4 separate regions of the Homo sapiens genome follow, and all the other regions are linked to region 1. The links come from fine-mapping of genetic effects on gene expression. A gene starts in region 1. Each other region holds a variant in brackets. All regions are shown on one strand. Distances are from middle to middle. Region 1 holds the start of CPS1 (carbamoyl-phosphate synthase 1). Region 2 holds the start of LANCL1 (LanC like glutathione S-transferase 1). Region 3 overlaps CPS1 (carbamoyl-phosphate synthase 1). Region 4 overlaps LANCL1 (LanC like glutathione S-transferase 1).

Region 1 (5,223 bases):
AGCTGTGCACTGTGACAGACCCTTGAAACAGATCTGTCACCATGAGCTAGAACTGCTTTCACAGTAATCCATCCACATAATTAGACCATTTTGTCGTGGTTGTGATTGTGGTGGTGGTTGTATGGAGCACTTATTGTGATCTTGGAGAATTGGATTCTAATTTCAATCATATCTGTGCCATTTTAAGTAAGTACTCAATTTCGCGGTTTCTGGGGTCTGATGAAGATGCACCTATCCTTACCTACATACCTACCTTCTCACAGAGTGAGAAGAAGATATTCCAAGTCACCCAACTTTGAAGTATTAGATGGCACATATAATCATAGGGGATAACTTTCATTACTATTGATTTTCTCTGAACTGATACATGAGTACCTTGAGGTATTACTAACAATAAATTCTCATAGTTTACATCTAGTTACAATGTCTTTGATGTTAGTTTAGAATATTCTCCTTTCCCATTCTTTTGCTATAATTAAGCTAAATTCAAGAAAATATATATAACTAGACATAATGCCACTAACCTTTAGTGACTGCTCCCAGTGCCCTTTATGGCCATTATGTAACTACATCCTAATGATTTTAACTATCTTTAAAACATGATGTCCATTTAAAAAGAGTAAAATTGGATACATTGGAATATGTAACAACATAAAAGACATTTTCCTTTCTGGTTTTCTTAATTTAAAATGGTAATTTCCTATACTCTTGTTAGAATCTTCTCAATGTTAAAGGCTGAAGTTGTTAACACACCACTAAGGCTACTATATGTATTTCCTCTTTTCTCCTGGGATCTTGAGCTAGTTTCTCTCTCTTTCTCTCTCTCTCTCCCTCCCATCCCTCACACTTCTCCCCTTCCCCTCCCCCTGTCTCCATCTCTCTTCCTTTTCTTTTACTCCCATTCCTTTCCCATCCCTATCCCTGGCAGCCACAGGAATCTATGAATATTCCTTGGCCTTGCAGGTGTCAGGACCAAAACCCCACTGAATCCTGACTTGAGCAACTGAAACAATAGAAGCTTAGTCAACTCAATGAGCATGCAAAGTATAAGCAGAACACTCCAAACTGTGAGTTCCCATTTTCACATCAACAGACAGAGGTTTTCTTTTGTTTTTTCTATTTCAAATTTTACAGCTTTTGCTGCTAAAGAAGCAATATATCTAAAGCTAATATAATTACTTAAACTTATAGTCACTAAAGATTATTTTCATTGGCAAAGTTCCTATGGAGTAACTTCAGGCTTCTCTGATAATGAACGTCTTCATAAAGTTGCAGGAAGGAGCAGAGGTTCCTACAGGAATTTCATAATTCAATGCTGGGGGGCAGGAAGAAGGGCAATTAATGTTTCTTTCCTGGGCTTGCCCTCTCAATTATAGATACCTGTGGAGGGACAGAATTATCAGCTGCTATCTGCCTCTATGTATTACTCTACAAAATGAAAATAATAAGTTTAGCCTGCCCAAAAAAACAGCCAGAAGGAAAAGGAAAAAGCTAAAGCAGTGTCTACATGATGACCTGCAAATCTCAAAAACACATATTTTCTAATTATGTTTTTAAAATGTTTAAATGATATTTCAAAAGAGAACTTTTCAGTAAGCCCTATTTATAGAACAGACCTTAACACACTGTGTACCATAATGTGGCTCACACACATATAAGCAGCTCCATTTTTTAAATCCAAACTGTAAGCAATAGTATCTAGTCACAGAAAGCTATCTATGAAAGAAAAGATGTTTCTTTTTCAAGCAGTGTACTTACATTTTACATGTTCACAAGAATTGTCATCATTCTTTATGTTGGGTAAAAATTACTGTCATGTTACTCAGATAAGATAAAAATTAGCATTTGCTAAGTCAGTAGGTTCCACAGTAAAGGAAACATTAATACATTAGTACTTCAGAGCTACATTCAAAACTGTATTTGCCTTGTAAGGGACACCTTTGCTTCACTGCTAAACTATACCCCATAGTATTTTATCAGAAACAATCAATATGGGTATTACCTTGACAGAAAGGAGCCTGATGCCAGGTCTTGAAAATTTCCATTTTTGGTGTGCAGTCACATTGGTAAAGCCAAAACCAGTCTTCAGTGTCCTCACCACTTTGAAAGCTGTCAAAATCCTCGTCATTTTGATGATTTGTGGCTAAAATTAAATGAAATTACATAAATTTTATGAGATTGTGTGATAAGACTTTTTAGTTAATGTAAAAGAAATCTGGGAGGGGTGCAGTCAGTGTTTAAGGCTGACTGCACAGCGATCTTTGAATTTCCATTCATTCTGCCATTAAATGTCTTCAGCCACAGCTCCTCCTTCTCTTAACCCCTCCTCCTGAGGTAATGTCCAGAGATGTTCCATGGGCATGTAACACAAATTGCAACACATCAAATACTACCTTCTCCTGCTAAAATAATGCTGGGGTTGTAGAAAACCAGCCATCCATCAAAGGAATTGTTTATGCAGCTGAATGGAATGACCTAGACATCATGGACAACCTTATCCTAAAGAGTAGCAACTTTCCAACATGCTAAGGATCACAGGCTTTTGCTTATGTCACATGTGATACCTAATATGCCTCATAAGAGATTTTGGATTCCCAAAGAAAGCTGAACGCTTGCCATTTTCTGTTGGGGTAAAAAGACAATGTTCTTTTTACAAAAAGTAAAAATCAGAGCATCCTACAAATAGCATTTTTACTATTTGTAAAAAGAACGTTAGAATAAACTTTTCTCCACAAATATACAATAAACCTATCTATATTATGTTTTGGGTTAATAGAGTAGTATACTACATTCTTACTATAGCATTGTTCTGTGTTTCAAAGTTAAAGCAATCAGTAATATCAAGTAAAACACAACTAAAGCAAAGTGGACTATTATATCCCTCTTAAGCCTCTTAGATTTGTAAAAACTTCATGAAACAATGACAAACACTGATTTTAATATAAGCACTATTCCTAAGTCAAGTTTTTTTAGTTATTAAAATGTTATATATAAAATTTTCCAAACTTCAGCATTCATATTTCAACATGAATAAAAAGTGATTCACTTAACCCTTCAGTCCCATGTTTAACCAGGCTCTCAAGGGGCCTCACTGGCTGGCAGATGCTCTTGCTTAAGTCACATGACTATGTAGAACAGGAAGTACTGCAGCAGTGTTCTTTGATACCCTTGCAAAGAAGGCCAAGGAATAAAGGCAATAGACTCATACCTAGGTCTTCTCATAACAGAAAAGATGACAGAAAATGACATAAAGATTGTAAGCTTCAATAACATAGAATCAGTGCTAGAGTTGGGGTAAGGATTTTTTTAAAGAGGAACAAAGTTTAATTTAAGTCCTCACGCTTACTTAATATATTCAAGTACAAACAGTATTTGATTTCAAAGTGCTTCATGGCTCCTGGTGATAGAAAGCTAAACAAAATAGGCTCATACTAGTTTATACAAATAATTAATAAAATAACTGGTGCCATGAAAGTTGCCCAAATGCAATGGGAAAATAAATAAAATGGGGAAAATAAGAAAGAAAGATCAAGTTCCTTGTGCATTTTCAGTAAAGTTTAAGCATAGAATTATGTTGAGCTGTGTTATACTGAAGGATGCAAATTCACCAAGTAGATAAAGAGGGGAAAAAACCCAGAAGGGATGCCGTGGCATGAGCAATAGCCTAGAGGCATGAAGTCATGTGGTATATTTTTTAAAAGCCTAGATGCAGGGTATAGAATGGGAAAATGAAAAGGTACCATATCATGGGAGACTTAGTATGCCTTAAAATGTTCAGCCTTCATCCATAAATAGTATTCATAATAGTCATGGAAGTATTTTGAACAAGAAATAAAGGCGAAATTTGTGTTGAAGATCATTGAAAAATGAATTGGAGGAGAATGAAAATAGCAAAAGGAAAACTCCCAACCTAGAGAACTGAGGACTGAGAAGCAGTACTTACTGGCTTAGTCCAATACTAGTTTACGCCTTGATCTCACCTCTTGTCTTTTTATGTGTGTGTGTGTGTGTGTGTGTGTGTGTGTAGTGAGGGTTGTCTTTCCTTAATTAAGAAAACGATATAAACTCAATCCTCATTATGGAAACTTTTCTTTTTAAGTTTTTTTTTCTTTTATTATTATACTTTAAGTTTTAGGGTACATGTGCACATTGTGCAGGTTAGTTACATATGTATACATGTGCCATGCTGGTGTGCTGCACCCACTAATGGAAACTTTTTAGGATGCAAAATAAATTTAAATCAGTCATAGTCCCATTACCCTAAGGTACCCATGCAATGAATACTATAATATATTTCCTCCCTTCATCACTTATGTTTTAATCAAATATGACAGTGGAAGTACTGAGGAGTCCAGAGCTTGACCAAGGAAAAGACTTCATCACCATTTATAGCAGTTGACTACAAAGCATGATGAATTAAACATGTTTTTCCATAGAAATGTCAACAATCAACAATTCTAGGATAGAATTCTCCTACTCTAAAGTCTAGAGAGAAATGTGGGCATGAGAGTTTTAATGGGCTTTCATTTTTATCAGTAAAGGGTCCCAGATGCAGACTTGCAAACTACGGTGTGTGTGTGTATATATATACATACATATATATATGTGTGTGTATATATATACATACATATATATATGTGTGTGTATATATATACATACATATATATATGTGTGTGTGTATATATACATACATATGTATATGTGTGTGTATATATACATATATATATGTATGTATATATACATACATATATATATGTGTATATACATACATATACATATGTATGTATATATGTATATATATTTTATGGTCCATGTCTTTAGTCATCAGAATGAAGGAGGAGAAGGCAGAAATTTTGGAAAATTTGATTAAATATTCTGAATTAGAGACTTGGAAAATCCATCAATTATAATTCCACAATGGAGGTTGGAACAGCCAATAAATAAAATAGTGGCTAGTTTCATACTTGAGTGTTCAGGCTAGACTGAAATCTATAACCAAACTGGAAAAAAATATATTACACATTAGTGAGGGAGTTTACATTAGGATAGATCAAAGGAGTTGAGGCTATAAGAGTTGGTTGGTAGGGAATGTTAAAGTCAGACATGAAAAAATTTAGTGGAAATGTTACACTTTTAGGACAGATTATTTTTCAAAACATTTTAAAAAATAAGCATTTTTTTCTTCTCTGACCACATGTACACAGTCCTCCTTCATATAAGCTG
Region 2 (5,223 bases), 78 kb after region 1:
AGCTAACAAGGATCAAGGGAATAGGTAGGAAGAAACAGAGAAGGCATGGTTGCTAGGAGGTTAGAGGCAAAAGGAACACCACAGACACTATAGCATGCTGCGCCTTTGCTGGCAGACAGGGGCTATCAGTTACTAAAACTGCCATCATGTATTGGAGGACATTAACTGTCCACCAAAGTCAGTCTTCCCCTTCTTTCATTGTAGCTGAACACATAGCTGTTCAGCAGAGAACTTCATTTCACAGCCTCCTGGGCAGCTAGAGGTGGCCAAGTGACTAAATCCTCACCAGTAGAACACGAGGGAAGTGACAAATCCCACTTCCTGGTCTGTGCACTTCTCTGGGTGTGCCTGACCTTCTCACAAGCTGCAATACCGACACACCTATGACCAGCATGGACTTGATGAGAGCATCACACTCTGAGGGAGGTGGGAACAGAGATGGAAGGAATCTGTGATCCTGAATGGCCACATGGAGCAAATCTAATCTGAACTAAGAAAAATACATTTCTATGTATTTTGGAGATTATGTTTTGAGGCCTCTTTGTAACTAACATAGTTTTCACCCTAATATACATTATAACATTTTGAAATTAAAGTCTGAGAATGGAACTAAAATGCCCTCAGAATATAGTTGTTTTCTCTGTTATCAATCATCCCAGATTTCCAGAAGTATTCAGTTTTAGAGGCAATAATACAATGATTATTTCCTGAAAGTTCACACAAGACAGCTACAGTGATTAAAAGAAGGAACATTACATTTTTTTAAAAAATCATCCTAAATTTATCAAAAGTAGAATGATCCATAAAAAATTATAACTGTCAAATTTGTGTTAGCCACAAATGTGTTCAGCCACCATAGCCACAGGTGAAAGCATAGGTACTATTTGGGGCTAAAATTGTTGCCCCCCAAATTCATACGTTGAAGTCCTAACTCTCACTATCTCAGCATGTGGCTGCTGGAGAAGGGTCTTTAAAGAAAAGTAAGGTTAGCCAAGTCAGGCATATCACTTGAGGTCAGGAGTTCAAGACCAGCCTGGCCAACATGGTGAAACCCCGTCTCTACTGAAAATACAAAAATTAGCTGGGCGTGGTGGTGTGTGCCTGTAATCCCAGCTACTCTGGAGGCTGAGGCAGGAGAATCGCTTGAACCAGGGAGTCAGAGGTTGCAGTGAGCCGAGATCGTGCCACTGCACTCCAGCCTGGCAACAGAGCGAGACTCCGTCTCAAAAAAAAAAAAAAAAAAGAAAGAATGATAAGGTTCAATGAAGTCATAATCCACTATGATGGTGTCGTAAGAAGAGGAAATTAGGACACAGACAACACAGACTGAGGGACAACCATGTGAAGATAGGAGAAGACGGCATCTACAAGCCAACAAGACAGGCCTCAGATGGAATCAGTCCTGCTAACATCTTAATCCCAGACTTCTATCCTTCACAACTGTGGAAAAATACATTTCTGTTGTTTCAGGCCACTTGCTATGGTTCTTTGTGTGGCAGCCTGAGTAGATAAATACAAACAATAAATGTTAAATACTTTTCTTTTGTATCAGAACCAAGGAGGGATTCTCTGGGTTGGTTCTCTGACAAAAAGGAAGGAAGAAAGAGAAGGAAAGCAGGGAGGGAGGGAGGGAAGGGAGGGGGGAAGGGGGGAGGGGGGAGGAGGGAGGGAGGGAGGGAAATATTATTTCCAGCAATTAAAATCTTTGGGTGTTTACAAGTCACATGCTTTGATTATATTTAAATTCTAAATAATTCTACTTCCCTTCCGTTTAGACGCATGCTTCACATCATCTTCAGAAGTAAACTCCAGATAAAGACTTAAATATAAGAGGTAAAAAGCTAATAAAATAAAATGTGGGAAGTCATTGCAGTCTATGAGTAGACAAAGACATTTTGAATATGAAGCTAAATCCTCAAATCACAGTGTCACAATTAGATGGGTTTAACTTCATCGAAATGAAAGATTGTGATTCAATAAAGGATATCCTAGAAAATGTGAACAAACTAAAGAAAGTATCTACAATAACTAAAGTGAAAGGAGATTAATATACAGAATATACCCCACAAACACGGGAAAAAAAGAAACAAAACTCTTTCAAATCAACAGGAAAACAATGCAATCACTAATAGAAAAATAAATAAAGGAACAGGTAAAGCCCAATTGTCTAACAGGTATATGAAGGAAAGTTCAACACCATTAGCCACAGAAAAACTAAAAGATTAAACATCAGTGAGATTCTACATTATTCATTAGAATGGCAAACATTAGAACACTAGATAATACCAAGTGTTGGAGAGGAGATGGAAATGACAGAAACAATTGATATGTTGGAGTGAATACTCTTGGAGTGAACAATAGATACTGTTAGAGGGAATATAAACTAGTCCAGCAGTTTTGGAAAGCAATCTAACAACATTGGGGAAATTAAGTACAGAATCTCATATGATCCAGCAATTGACTGCTGGGTGTATGTCTCAGGGATACTCACACAGATTCATAAAAGCACATGTTCCAAGAATATTATTTGTAGTATGGAAGTTAGAAACAATGTCCATCATTAGGGGAAAGGATTAGTAAAATAAGATAGAGGCATACTATGAAAATATACAATTACCATCCTGCCTTGCTTAACAACAGTAATATTTAATTGCTTAAAGACTGTGAGTGGGATAAATGGATAGCCTTTAATCATTAAAGAAAAAATAATTGATAAAATGTCTCTCGTTTTCCTTTTCTCTCTTGTGAGTTGCTCCTTCAAACACCCATCTTTTAAAACATGAGAGATATCCAGCTTAAGACTCACCATGGGCCTCGGCTAAAT[C/T]TTCATGAATTTGATGAGGTTAAGAAAGCAACTACATTTCCTAAGAAAGCAACTATTTTAAAAGAGCAAACCTGGGTGTGGGGAGGGATTAGGAGTAGAGTTTGGGATGGCAGCCTCAGAAGGACAAACTTAGGCCAAGGAGGGAGGGAGTTGGGGTGGAGACTGAGCTTCTCCAGTTGGAGGTCTGGAGCTAGGACTCTTCATTGAAACCGGAGAGAAGGAAAAGGAGAGAGTGAGGCTGACTTTTTAACTGAACTCCAAAATTCTCTGAGCAATAGAATGGGCCTAATATGTACCAGGTGGGATTTAATTTTAAATGAAAGAAAAATGTTTCAGATAGCAGGGACTGTTAAAACATTGAAATTGAATGTTGTGGATCTCCTGCTGTGTTGGTTTTCAGTATTTTTTAGAGCTTTGTTATCCAGTATTATAGTCCAATTTAGGCTAAGGAACAGAATAAATTTCCTAAGAGCTGTAATTTGTGTTTTCATGTGCTTTCCCCAAAGTATTATCAACTGCTATTTGATATCCTGTCCTTTGGGCATATTTTTGTTGTTGTTGTTGTTAATGATGGTGGTGCTTTTTTGTTTGTTTGTTTTAAGAAATGAAAAGAAAAGATTGGCAAGTCCCTGGAGAGACATTATCCCCCCACCCCCCGCCAAATTTTATCTATTGCGAACAGCAGAAATACCAGCATGTTCAGATCTAAAAGCAGTCTGTTTCTTCTCCAGGTTAAAAAAATATATACTTCTTATGACTCTGGACTTAAATTTGACTTTTTAAAAATAAGAAAAATTAAAGAAGGGTAGGAAATATTGGTCACATCTCCGCGTGATTCTAGGTCCTCACTTCTGCTACCCAGTAATTAAAATACCCTGCGTTATCCTTTAGAAATTACACGCCTGTGTCTTTAACAAACTGTAAGAGAGAAGGGGGCGGGTCTCGGGAACGGCGAAGGCTCTGATTGGCCCTCCTGGCAGGAACTGGGCGGTAAAATAGCCCTTCTGTTACTGTCCGGGGCTGCGGGGTGAGAGGCCAGGGCCGAGAAGGGCTTCAGGACGCGGGAGGCGCACTTGCTTCAAGTCGCGGGCGTGGGAACGGGGTTGCAAAACGGGGCCTCTTTGTCCGGGTGGGTTAAGGGCCCTGGCAGCTTTTTCGCGAAGGCGCCATGTCCTAGCAGTTGGGCCGCAGTGGGCCCGAGGTCCACTCGGACCGCCGAGACGGCTCGATGGCCCTGGAGCTGGAGGAAGGGGGATACCTGGGCGCCGCCGCCGCCCTCGCAACTCGGCCGAGGCCCCTATCTCAACCTAGTTTCTGTTTTTCCCCTGTTCTGCAGGCTTGCTTCCGGCGTCATGGCTCAAAGGGCCTTCCCGAATCCTTATGCTGATTATAACAAATCCCTGGCCGAAGGCTACTTTGATGCTGCCGGGAGGGTGAGTTTAGGATATGTCTGCCTGCATCCCTGCCTCTCCCCACGGTGTTCGGAAAGGTGCTCATTTTTGCCTGAGAGAGTTGAGCATCCCCCTTTAAAAAAATACATGATTCGACGATAAATACGTAAATTATTTAAAAATACATGTTAATATATACAAATTGAGCTCTAACATAATGTTAAATGTGTCATTGTTAACATTATTAATTGAAATAAACTCAATTATTGATAGTATAAATTTTAAAAATTGGCAAATATGTAGTTTACTATGTAATTGGCATTTTTTAATGTATTTTGGTTTGCTTCTTAAAAAGAGGTGAAGAATCCTAACGGTATTCACATGTGCCGTGTTACTCCTTTGTGATTATACACAAGTGCGTTCAGGGTAATGATGAGAGCAAACGGTGGTGTATGGTAAGGACGTCTTTAAACTGTTAGTGCTTAGAGAATTTGGGGACCTAGGAAACCTGAAGTTCTTTGTACCGGTGTCACTCCACAGGGCATATCCACAGCTGGAAAACAAAAAAAAAGAAACTTGTAAATTAAACTGGTTAGCATGTCACAAATCACTGTGCAAAAGAGAACCTGGATGTAAAATACTAGGGGCCTGTGTTTTCTCATGCCTCATTGGGTGAACATAATTGTTAAGAGGGAATACAGATATTTTTAAGAATACCTACTTTTGGCTGGGTGCAGTGGCTCACACCATTAATCCCGACACTTTGGGAAATCAAGGCAGGAGGATTGCTTAAGGCCACGAGTTTGAGACCAGCCTGTGCAACACAGCAGGACCTTATCTCTACTAAAATTTTTTTAAAAATTAGCCAGGTGTGGTGGAAAGCTTGTAGTCCCAGCTACTTGGGAGGCTGAGGCGGGAGAATTGCTGGAGCCTAGGAGATTCGAGGCTGTAGTGAGCTATGATTGCACCACTGCACTCTAGCCTGGGTGACAGAGACCCTGTCTCTAA
Region 3 (5,223 bases), 50 kb before region 1:
AAAACAGGCTGATGTCTTCCCGGATACGACGTTCTTAATTTCTGGAAGTGGGATTCCTAGGGCAATCTTTGCAGCAATGAATGCCAATGGGTAGCTATAAAAAGAAGACAAATTTATTTTTTTTTCTTCGAGCAATTATTGAAAACAGACCAAAACATAAATTGGTCTTTCTTAAAATTTCTGGTATTATTCTACTTCAGGGTATAAGACACTTGATTCTCTGTTCTGCATCAATATTTAGTAGCCACTTGCGGAATAATAGGAGTCATGATACAAAGTATAGAGGCACAGGTCACAGGAGAATTTACTCTCTGTGCACTACATGCATTGCTACAACGCTCAACCTTCACCTCTTCAACCCAAAATCGATAGCTTTATTGATAAATAAAGTTTAACCTTTATTTGTATTTAACCTCCACTAAGATGAGAATCTGCAAAATATTTTTTGAGAAAATATATACATATCTGTACATATACATATCTGTACCTAAGAATACAGTGGAGTTAGCTAGTACAAGAGAGTACATAATGGTCAGAAAATGTAGGCATTTCAAGTTTGGGTCCTTGCTCTGTCTCCAAATTATCTTTGAACTTTGGGCTCCTTACAAAACTAACACTTTGAGAACTTGACTATCTTCATCCAGAATGTCAGTTTGGGTTATTCTGTTTGAGAAAATAATTCATAGAACTATAGAATTAAAAATGAGTTCTTTAGTACAACTTCCACCTAACAAATGAGGAAACTGATAAAGACAATGAGTGATGTGCTCAAAATCACACGGTCAACAGAAGAACCAAGTGAGAATGCAGAATTGTGACTCCTGTACAGGGCAACATGCCTTTCACCACTCCACGCAGTGCTGTGGAACTACGTAAAAAAAATATAAAGAAGTAAATATTGTGTTCATTTAAATGCCATAATTTAAGTGTAAGGTGCTAAATATATTATTAGAAACCAAAGGTTTTGATTACCTTTCCCTCCAATCATGCCTGCTAGTGGCTGTTACATAGACAGCAGATGTATTTGTTTGGTTGTAACAGTTACTTGTGAAAAAATTCCGCACTGTTCAGTCTTGTGGAGTTTTGATAAAATAAAAGTAATGTGTATTGCATGCTTGAGTCAAGTGAGCTATATTTTCTGTCAACTATTTGCTATAGGGCTATACACCTGAAGAAAACAGCTGAAGACTAAAATTAAGGATTAATCTGCACTTTTAACAACATCTGCAAAGTGCAATTAGGAAGCAGATTTTTCACAGCCTGCTTTAGCCACCTAGATTTTGATTCGTTTAGATTAGCCTGCAAACAAAGCCAGCTAGCAATATAATTTACCTCAATCTGGCAACAAGCTCATTAATAATCATGTCCTCAGGGTGCTATAAATGATTTGGAGCTAACATACAGAAAAAGGGAACATAGTTTGTAAATGCAGTACAGTCTTCCACTATCTGTCAATTTTTCATTTCTATCTGAAAAGAATCTGCAAACCCATGGTCAATTATTCTGGTCTTACCCAGTGGCTTTTGAGGCCAGAGCAGAGCTTCGGGACAGTCTGGCATTCACTTCAATGATGCAGTATTCCATTGAGGTAGGATGAAGGGCAAACTGAATGTTGCATTCACCCACAATGCCCAAGTGGCGAACAACATTGATTGAAGTACGTCTCAACATCTGAAACTCGGCATTGGAGAGTGTCTGGGCAGGAGCCACAACAACTGAGTCACCTATATATCCAAGAAGCACTCATTACTTGGTGGCATATTGAAATAACCAACTTCAGCGACTTAACCATCTACTTGCACGATGCAAGACATAGAACAGTCTGAGGGTTTGTTGGGATATATATGTGATATCAGGTATTCCCCCAATTCCTGTTTTGCCCATATTACTCTGATACAGTACTTTTAGAAACCTCTCTAACCTTTCCCAAGTTCATCTATCTAGTAAGTAGCTATCAAGGCTTCAATCGTCTACTTACTAGATTGACTTCAACTTCCCTGCTCTTCATCTCAAATTATTTCTGAAGTTCTTCCTTTCATTGAATATTATCACTCAGACTGGCTCATCAGCTGGCTTTCTGTATCTCATCCCTTTCCATCTTCACTTC[C/T]CTCATCATAGCCCCTTATATCTGCAATCTTAGTCTCCATCCCTTCTGCCTTCAAACACGCTCAGATCTTCACTGCCTCCGGAAGTCTTCTCCCAACATTGCCAGACAACCATACAAAGCTTCTCTCTCATTCTTTACATGAATGAGCTTCTTGAAAGTTTGCCAATTCTGCTTACCACTTGATACCATGTAATTCCTTTTAATAGAGCTCACAGAACTGACTTTGCAATGAAATTGTTCTCTTGGACATCCAAAAGAGCCAAATTAAATAATCAGTCTTGGTCTTGCATAGCATTTGATACTGCCAAAAACAAAGCTCTTTTATAAAATAGTTCTTGCATTGGCTTAGTTGGTACAGTACTACCTGATTTTCCTCTTAACTCTTTATTCTCCCCTTCTATCTTCAACAGTAATACTTCCTCTTTCCCCTGCCCTATAAATCTAAATGTTTCCCAGAGTTCAAAGTTCAACCCTATTCTCTCCTCTTTCTATACCTATGTCCTTGAATACTTTGTCTATGCCTACAACTTCAATTTCCCCTTTTATGCCAACAGTTTCCAGTGTCTTTGTATCAACTTATTTATTTCTATTTTATTTCTTAAATTCCATCTCCACATTCTCAACTCCCTTTTTTGACAGCTCTGCTCACACCCCAAATTTAGCACTTTTAAATCCTAAGTTATCATCTTTGCCCTCTTATCTAACTAGTGTACTTTTCTGAAAAACTTATTTCTATTATTGTGCCTATTTTCTCATTTACTGGGTGATTACCAGCTCAGTCTGCTTTAAACTGTCTCAACCTCCCTTCTTATTTCTCAACACTAAGTTTTATGGATCTTATTTCTACCATATTGCTTACCTTTGGCTCTTCCTCAATTAACTCAGTGTAATATCCGCCTTACTTCACAGGGTTTGTGTGAAGATCAAATTAAATGTGAGAACATTTTCAATACTGTAAAATACTATGCTTGTCCAAAATGTTATCACTAGTCTGTCAACTAGAAATAGTAATTTAAAGGCAACAACTTTATAAAGACTGCCTTGGCCATCAAAGACATGAACTGAAAGCATTACTATAGTTCTTGAAGATACTTTGCCTACCTGTGTGAACACCCATGGCATCAACATTTTCCATGTTACAGACAGTGACACAATTGTCATCAGCATCTCGAACCACTTCATATTCTATTTCTTTCCAACCTGTCACTGACTTCTCCACCAGAATTTGGTTGGTCATAGCAAAGGCCTAGAAATTGGTGACAAAAGATATCAAAGAGTAAGAAAAAGCACTGGCTTCAACAAGGATATTTGGCAAAATACCCTGGCATAAATCCTGGTCAGCACTGAACTCTCAAACCCCGTCTCCATTCTCCCCTGCACAGAAGGCACAATGTGTCAGAAAATCAGTGAGGTACTAGGAATAGCATCCTGCAGTGAATATGCTTGATTTACATTATTGAGGCTTGCCATTCAAAGTGCTGATATGACAGTAAATCAAACTAATTTAGGAAAAAGAGAAAATAATTGAGCAATCAGGCAGAGGGAAATGAAATTATTTCAGCAGCTAGGCTTCTGTGAAACCAGAAAATGTGATAAGTGTGAATAAATATGGAAAAATAAGTCTAAAGACTCTGGCTCTCTCTAAAATAGCTGAGGGTGCTTTGTACAGTGACACACACAATAAAAGTTAGTTGATGTTGATGAGGAGGAGAAAGGAGATGATGATGGTTGTAAACGGTTAGCCAAGATGGCATATAAAACTTGAGAATTAGAAGAATCATATGGGACTATTATTATGGTTAATCACTGCCTAAATGCTTAAATACTCTGAGTCATATATCATGTATGCCTGATTAGACAGATATGAATTAGCATAATTATAATTTCATATTTACGGCACACCCACAATGGGTAGAATACTGAACCCAAAATAGGAAAGTGGTAATCTTTGACCTTAGGACATGCAGTGGCTGATAATCCAAGGGAGAAATGTCTTATTGTCTTATAATATATTTGATTTGGATTGACAGTGAAAGGGAAAGCAGTTTGAATTTTTTCAAATTATTAATAGGCATTAAAATAATAATTTAATGTAAGTTTTTCTGTAATGTGCCTTAATAGGATTTTTTTAAACTTCAGTCATCACTACAGGCTCCAGCACGTGCAAATGAAAATGTGACACATTTGTCCCCACAGCTGCCCACGATGAGGTTCTCAAAGTGGTTAGAAAATTCAGTAGCCAATGTTAACAATTTAATAATGATTAATTCATCATTCCGGTTGCCTGCTAAAAGAAGAAATCTAGGAAACAAAGGGTATAAATTTGGAAAAGTATTTTGCATTCTAATGAAGTAAAATGGATATTTAGATACAGGGAAAATTTGAAATTATCTTCACCTGTTTCCTCAGCTTATTTTTATTTTTATTTTTTGAAGTCTTCGATTTTATGTAAAAAGTTAATTTAGGGACCTGGATAAGTTAATGCAGCTTTTAATGGTGCTAATTATAACCTCAAGAGAATAGGGGATTGTTTAGGACATAATGATATGACTAATTATTCTCAAGGGAAGAGCGAGGGTTTTTTTCAACAAGAAAAACCATTTAAGGGACTATTGATTATTTGAGTACAATATAAATAATTGAAAGCTATTTCATTCCAAAATTCTCTTTATTATAAACTTTCTTACATGAAAAGTTCAGTCTTCAGATTGGTTTCTTATAGAGTAAAAAAATTAATAGAGAATATGTATACACTGTCACAATTGGCAGTTATGAAGTTGTTAATATTGAAAATATTTGGAGCCTCTAACATGCTAGAGGAAATAAACTTTCTATCTTCAAAAACATGTTTTTGCTCTAAATATGTGATTCATATGTCCAGAATGGTAACAAGAAACATTTATGTGAGGTATGTTTCCCTTTTTTGTAATTTTCACAACTTTAGAAAAACGAAACCCAAGTTGTTTATATGTAAGTCTGCCATTGTAGTTATTTAAATATGCTGAATTGTACTTATCTGTTTTCAAAATTCTATGTCAACAATTCAAGGGTCTCATTTCACTTCAGTTCAAAAAGTAAGTAAAGATGAAGCAATAAGCTGTCCGTGAGCTATTTCC
Region 4 (5,223 bases), 90 kb after region 1:
TGCTGGAGGGAAGAAGAGGCAAAGAAGAATGCATTAATGCATGCTCTCCCTTTAAAAAGCCTTCCTGGAAGTCCCACTCAACATTTCAGTTGTGCTTACTTTGCATTGGCCAGAACATAGTCACGTAGTCACTCTTGTTAGCAAGGAAGGGTAGTAAATGCAGTCTTTTAGCTTGGGTTCTGTTAATAGAGGAAGAGGAGAGTGAACTTTGGGATAAGACCTAGTAGTCTTTGCTGTAACTTCTATATAACAAGAAAAATGATTTTTTTCTTGACTTCTATGTTTTGCACAAGGCATTTGGACAGTGAGCCTCAATTTTTATGTCTGCTAAAGGATCTCTTCTGTTCACTTTTTGGGGGATTTTTGGGGGGATAAATTTACCAGTGTCTATAAAATATTTTGAAATTTTCCAAGCAATATTTTATCTGTTCTTTGTTTCCAGGGAGATTGATTTGGATTTTGATTCACAACACCTTAAAGTTTTGTGTTTTTTTTTTTTCATTCAGTAAGTCTTTGCGTAAAGCCTGCCACAGAAAGTAAGTATTATAGGAATGTCGAATCATAATTTTCCTAGAGCTAAGTGTAACTTAAATCTAGAAGGGACTAGCGATTGATTCTAAACTTAATACTGTAAAACATTACTATTTTTGTAGCTTTATTAAACAGTTACTTGCCATTCTTTTCTGCTTTCTCCCAAACCCTTATTTTCTATTGCAAAATTATAAAGTTTCCAATTTGTACCATGCATCAATTCATACTAAACCCCATAATTGTATGTCTTTGTTTCTACTTCATGACTCTAAAGAAAGCTACAAAACTGGGCTGCCCAACTTCTTAATACCTCATTCATGGTGTGTCTAGATTTGTCTTAGTTGCTCAGTTGATCTTGAAAATGAAAGGGTTCTAGTGAAGAGATGACACATTCATGTGTTTAATGTTAGATGTGTAAAGTTGACCCTTAACAATGTGCAGTTTAAGGGCACATGCCCATTGACACTCTCAAAAGTTTATGTATAACTTTTGTCTCCCCCAAAACTTAACTACTAATAGCTTGCTGTTGAGGAAGCCTTCCTGATAACATAAATAGTTGATTAACACATATTTTGTGTGTTACATTTAATCTGTTCTGTATTTTTACAATAAGGTAGAAAAAAGAAAATGTTAAGAAAATCATAAGGAAGGGAAAATACATTTACTGTTCATTGAGTGGAAGTGGATCATTATAAAGGTCTTCATCCTCGTTTTCACATTAAGTAGGCTGAGGAAGAGGAGGAAAATAAAGAATTGGTCTTGCTCTCATGGGTGGCAGAGGCAGAAGAAGTGAAGGGAGGTGGAAGGGAAGGCAGGAAAGGCAGGAACACTCAGTAACTTTGCAAAAATACATCGTAATTTCTGTCGGACGTTTTTGCTTTTTCATTTCTCTAAAAATATCTGTACGTTGGCAATTCTTCCACCATTTGCTTTAGTGTCAGTGCCCATACCATATACGAATCCGTGTCAGAAATGAAGTAAAAAGCAGTATTGAATAATCAAAACCCTTTTGCCAGACTGTCTAACATCAGTTCATTTTCTGGTGCTGCTTCTTCTATATCTTCCTCATCCTCTAGCACTGGTTCATAAGAACTCATCTTCATCAAGTTGCTTTCTGTTAATTCCTCTGGTGTGGCGTCTATTAGCTCTTGAATTTCTCCAAGATTCATATCTTGAAATCCTTCATCCCCATCCCCCACCTTTTTTTTTGCCATATCCACATCTCTCTCATGATCTCCTTGATTGGTGCCTGTGAAGTCATGCACACTATCTGAACCCAGTTTTCTCCAGCAGGAATTTATTGTTTCAGCCTTGATGGTTTTTGTGGCTTTACTGTATCAACGATGGCATCTCAGTGGTGTAATTCTTCTAGACTTTCATGATGTTCTCTCTATCTGGTTTGTTCCGTGAAAGGGTCACATATGCAAAGTGACCCCCAAATGCTGAAGTAGCTGAAAAATCAAAGGAGGAGGCAGAAAATCCAATTTGTCAGTAAAGGCTGTTTTATTGGAGAACTTAGAGACACAAGCATGGTCTTGGTCAGCCACAAGGCAGGAAGATCTCAACACTGCTACTCCAGAGACCCAGGGCTTACATACCATAGGGAAAGGCAACCCTCAAAAACAGGCAAGACGGCTATGTGTATCACAGCCTATAATTTGTGCATTAGCACCAAGGTTCCTTTGTTCTTATACTAGGGGCAGTAAATAAAGTAAAAACCAGGAGGCATTCACGGGGCCGGGGCTAATCAGAAGTCTGTGTAGAGGATTAGCCTACAAGATGGAGTCACTTTTATCTCCACAGTGTACTCCATAGCACTGACAATCCGTTCCGTAAAGTACTATTTATAATGAGCCTGAGAGGTCCTTATGACCCCCTGATGTAGAGGCTGAATTAGAGACCTGTTTGGGGCAAGTAGACCACTTTGATGTCTTCAGTGTTGAACTCTTGGGTTCTGGGTAGCTAGGGGCATTGTGCACTATTGAAAAAACTTTAAAAG[G/C]CAGTCCCTACTGGCAAGATATTTCCCTACATCAAGGAGAAAGCATTGGTGGAACCAAACGATTAAAAAAGGTTCTTGTTGTCCAAGCTTTCCTGTACAACCAAAAGATTGGCAGCTGGTGCTCATCTTTTCTCTTCAAGACCAAGGGGTTGGCAGCTTTATAAATAAGGGTAGTCCTGATCATAAACCCTACAGCATTTGCATTAAACAGTAGAGTTAGTCTGTTCCTTCTTGCCTTAAATCCTGGTGGTCATTTCTCTTCCTTACTAATGCATGTCCTTTGTGGCTTTTCCCCCCCCAGAATAGGGTTCAAAACCTTTTCAGGCAGATAGCCTTTCTCCTCGATTTTTCTTCATCGTACCTGGGAACTTGTCTGCTGCCTCTTGGTTGGCAAAAGCTGCTGCTTCTGTTATCTTGACATTTTTTTAAGCCAAACTTCTTCCTATAATTATCAAACCAACCCTTGCTGGCATTAAATCATACAGCTTTAGATCGTTTTGCTTCTAGTTGCCGTATATTGACTTCACGTTTTCTTGAATCATTTTAGAGTCCTGCACCAACATAAAGGCTACATTTTCAATATGTACTGCAGTTTCACTAAAAATGCAAGGTTTTTGTGCCTGCTGCTGTAACTGCAGTGATGGCTTCATGAATTTCCTTTTCATTCTTTACAGTGGTCCTTATGCTGGATTCATTTATCTTAAAATGGCAGGCAACTGCAGCTGCAGACCTCAATCTATGGTTACATTATATCAAGCAGTTCAGGTGTTTCGTGTAATGTCACGACTTTTTTCTGCTTCGTGGAAGCACTTTCAGCATCACTAGTGGCACTTTGTATGTGTCCCATGGTGTTATTCAAGGTTTACAATATTGCACTAAAAACAATTAAAAATATGCAAGAATCAGAAGAGATTACTCTTTCCTGTGATATGTAATTTACTGGAGAGACAGAGATAATGATCTCAAGCAGAGATAATTCACATCACATGTTATTTTAAGTGGAGCAACACTTGATTTCACATCAGCAACAGGAGGTGGCTAAGAAGTTATTGCTGTACTACAGTATGCACTGGAGTTAATTTACGAAGTTATTTTTCATCTTTACATTTTTTGACATCTCTCTTGACTGCAGGTGGCACTATGTACAGTCTGTACGCATAAGTTTTTTTTTTTTTTTTTTTGAGACGGAGTCTCGCCCTGTCACCCAGGCCGAACTGCGGACTGCAGTGGCGCAATCTCGGCTCACTGCAAGCTCCGCTTCCCGGGTTCACGCCATTCTCCTGCCTCAGCCTCCCGAGTAGCTGGGACTACAGGCGCCCGCCACCGCACCCGGCTAATTTTTTGTATTTTTAGTAGAGACGGGGTTTCACCTTGTTAGCCAGAATGGTCTCGATCTCCTGACCTCATGATCCACCCGCCTCAGCCTCCCAAAGTGCTGGGATTACAGGCGTGAGCCACCGCGCCCGGCCTGTACGCATAAGTTTTAATAAATTTTAGCTTTTTATAATAGATTTGTGTATATTTTATCCTAGTGATAAAATAGACTAGTAACTATATATATTTTGTGCATTCATGACACACCTTTTTCTTAATTTTTTCGATATTTCTGGTCTACACAGTTCATCTGCAAGTTTTTTCAAATTGTCGACAGAAGCCCAAAAAAGTTTCCACTATATATATATATTTTTAAATCTGTGTACGAGTAGACCCATGCAGTTCAGACCCATGTTGTTTAAAAGCCCACTGCACTTGGAACTGAAAAACTGACTCCTTTTTTTCCCCATCTATCTTTTCAACAAAAATTAAAACTAATAGAAGGTACTTATTAGAATTCTGCTAAAGTACTTCTGAGTGTTAAACATGCTTAGTAAAATGATTATTACAATTAGTTAGGACTTTACAATTTTATTTTGTTGTTTCATTCCCCAGTAGTATGTAGATGGTCTGATAATTAACGCTAGTTCAGATAAGATTAGGATTTAGAATAGGATTATTCCAAATAATTCGTATATACACAATGCTTTGTTGGTAAGGGTGATATGTACAGGTTTAAATAGAAATGTAACAGAAGCAAATAATTGCTTAAGAAAGTACTTTACACTTACTTTACAAACTGTTTTACAACTGAAATTATCTTGGCTTTTATTTTAAAATTGAAGCAGAGGGTATGAAATAGTGAAGAGATTGGTTAACATGAACTTTTAATAGAACTCAAACGTCATTTCCACTGCAGCCTACATATTTACACCTGTGAGTTGTCATAGTGCAATTTTACAAGCTGTATCCCTGACTTTTACCTTTTTTATTCACAGCAGAGGTAAAAATGCCCTGACCGTGGGAAAGAAAGGAGGGAAGAATTTTAAAAACCTGTAGCTGTCCCATATTGTCTAAAGAGGCAGTTATTACCATAAATCCCTCTGGTCTCTCTCATGCTCATTCAGGAATGAGATGTTATGATTAATCAATTTTTCAGACAGTAAATTAGACTTAACAAATTACTTCTATAATGTTCAAAAAAAGAATAATAAAATAGATTGACTGAATGTTGGTTCCCAAGGGAATAAAGATCATCAGTATGCAGTTTTATGATCATTTGACTGTTGGAGGACAGGAGTAAGATTAAAACACTCTTCGTGGTGATAAAATGTTACTGCAGTTAACATCTGAATGACAAGACAGGGTGCAGGCACGTA

The links.
Region 2: its variant is fine-mapped to the expression of CPS1 in lung (TOPMed, PIP above 0.99). The same link has a PIP of 0.9 or more in blood mononuclear cells, coronary artery, esophagus mucosa, esophagus muscle, fibroblasts and left ventricle.
Region 3: its variant is fine-mapped to the expression of CPS1 in fibroblasts (GTEx, PIP 0.97).
Region 4: its variant is fine-mapped to the expression of CPS1 in tibial nerve (GTEx, PIP above 0.99). The same link has a PIP of 0.9 or more in atrial appendage.

Annotation. Positions count from the first base shown.
Region 1 is chr2:210,553,639-210,558,861 of GRCh38, reverse strand. It overlaps CPS1 (carbamoyl-phosphate synthase 1), which reads right to left and starts at 2,263. Exons shown (of 38, transcript NM_001875.5): 1 at 2,003-2,263. The coding sequence starts at 2,128.
Region 2 is chr2:210,475,350-210,480,572 of GRCh38, reverse strand. LANCL1 (LanC like glutathione S-transferase 1) reads left to right here and starts at 3,814. Exons shown (of 10, transcript NM_006055.3): 1 at 3,814-3,953; 2 at 4,161-4,257. The coding sequence starts at 4,177. It also overlaps a transcript of CPS1 not described here. The variant C/T (reference allele first, on the strand shown) is at 2,825.
Region 3 is chr2:210,603,232-210,608,454 of GRCh38, reverse strand. CPS1 (carbamoyl-phosphate synthase 1) reads right to left here. Exons shown (of 38, transcript NM_001875.5): 17 at 3,209-3,353; 18 at 1,514-1,724; 19 at 1-94. Among named protein-coding and RNA genes, the nearest start is that of CPS1-IT1, 12 kb to the left of the region's middle. The variant C/T (reference allele first, on the strand shown) is at 2,108.
Region 4 is chr2:210,463,461-210,468,683 of GRCh38, reverse strand. All of the region lies in intron 3 of LANCL1 (LanC like glutathione S-transferase 1), which reads left to right. LANCL1-AS1 (LANCL1 antisense RNA 1) reads right to left here. Exons shown (of 5, transcript NR_110606.1): 4 at 100-179; 5 at 1-2. Among named protein-coding and RNA genes, the nearest start is that of LANCL1, 11 kb to the left of the region's middle. The variant G/C (reference allele first, on the strand shown) is at 2,531.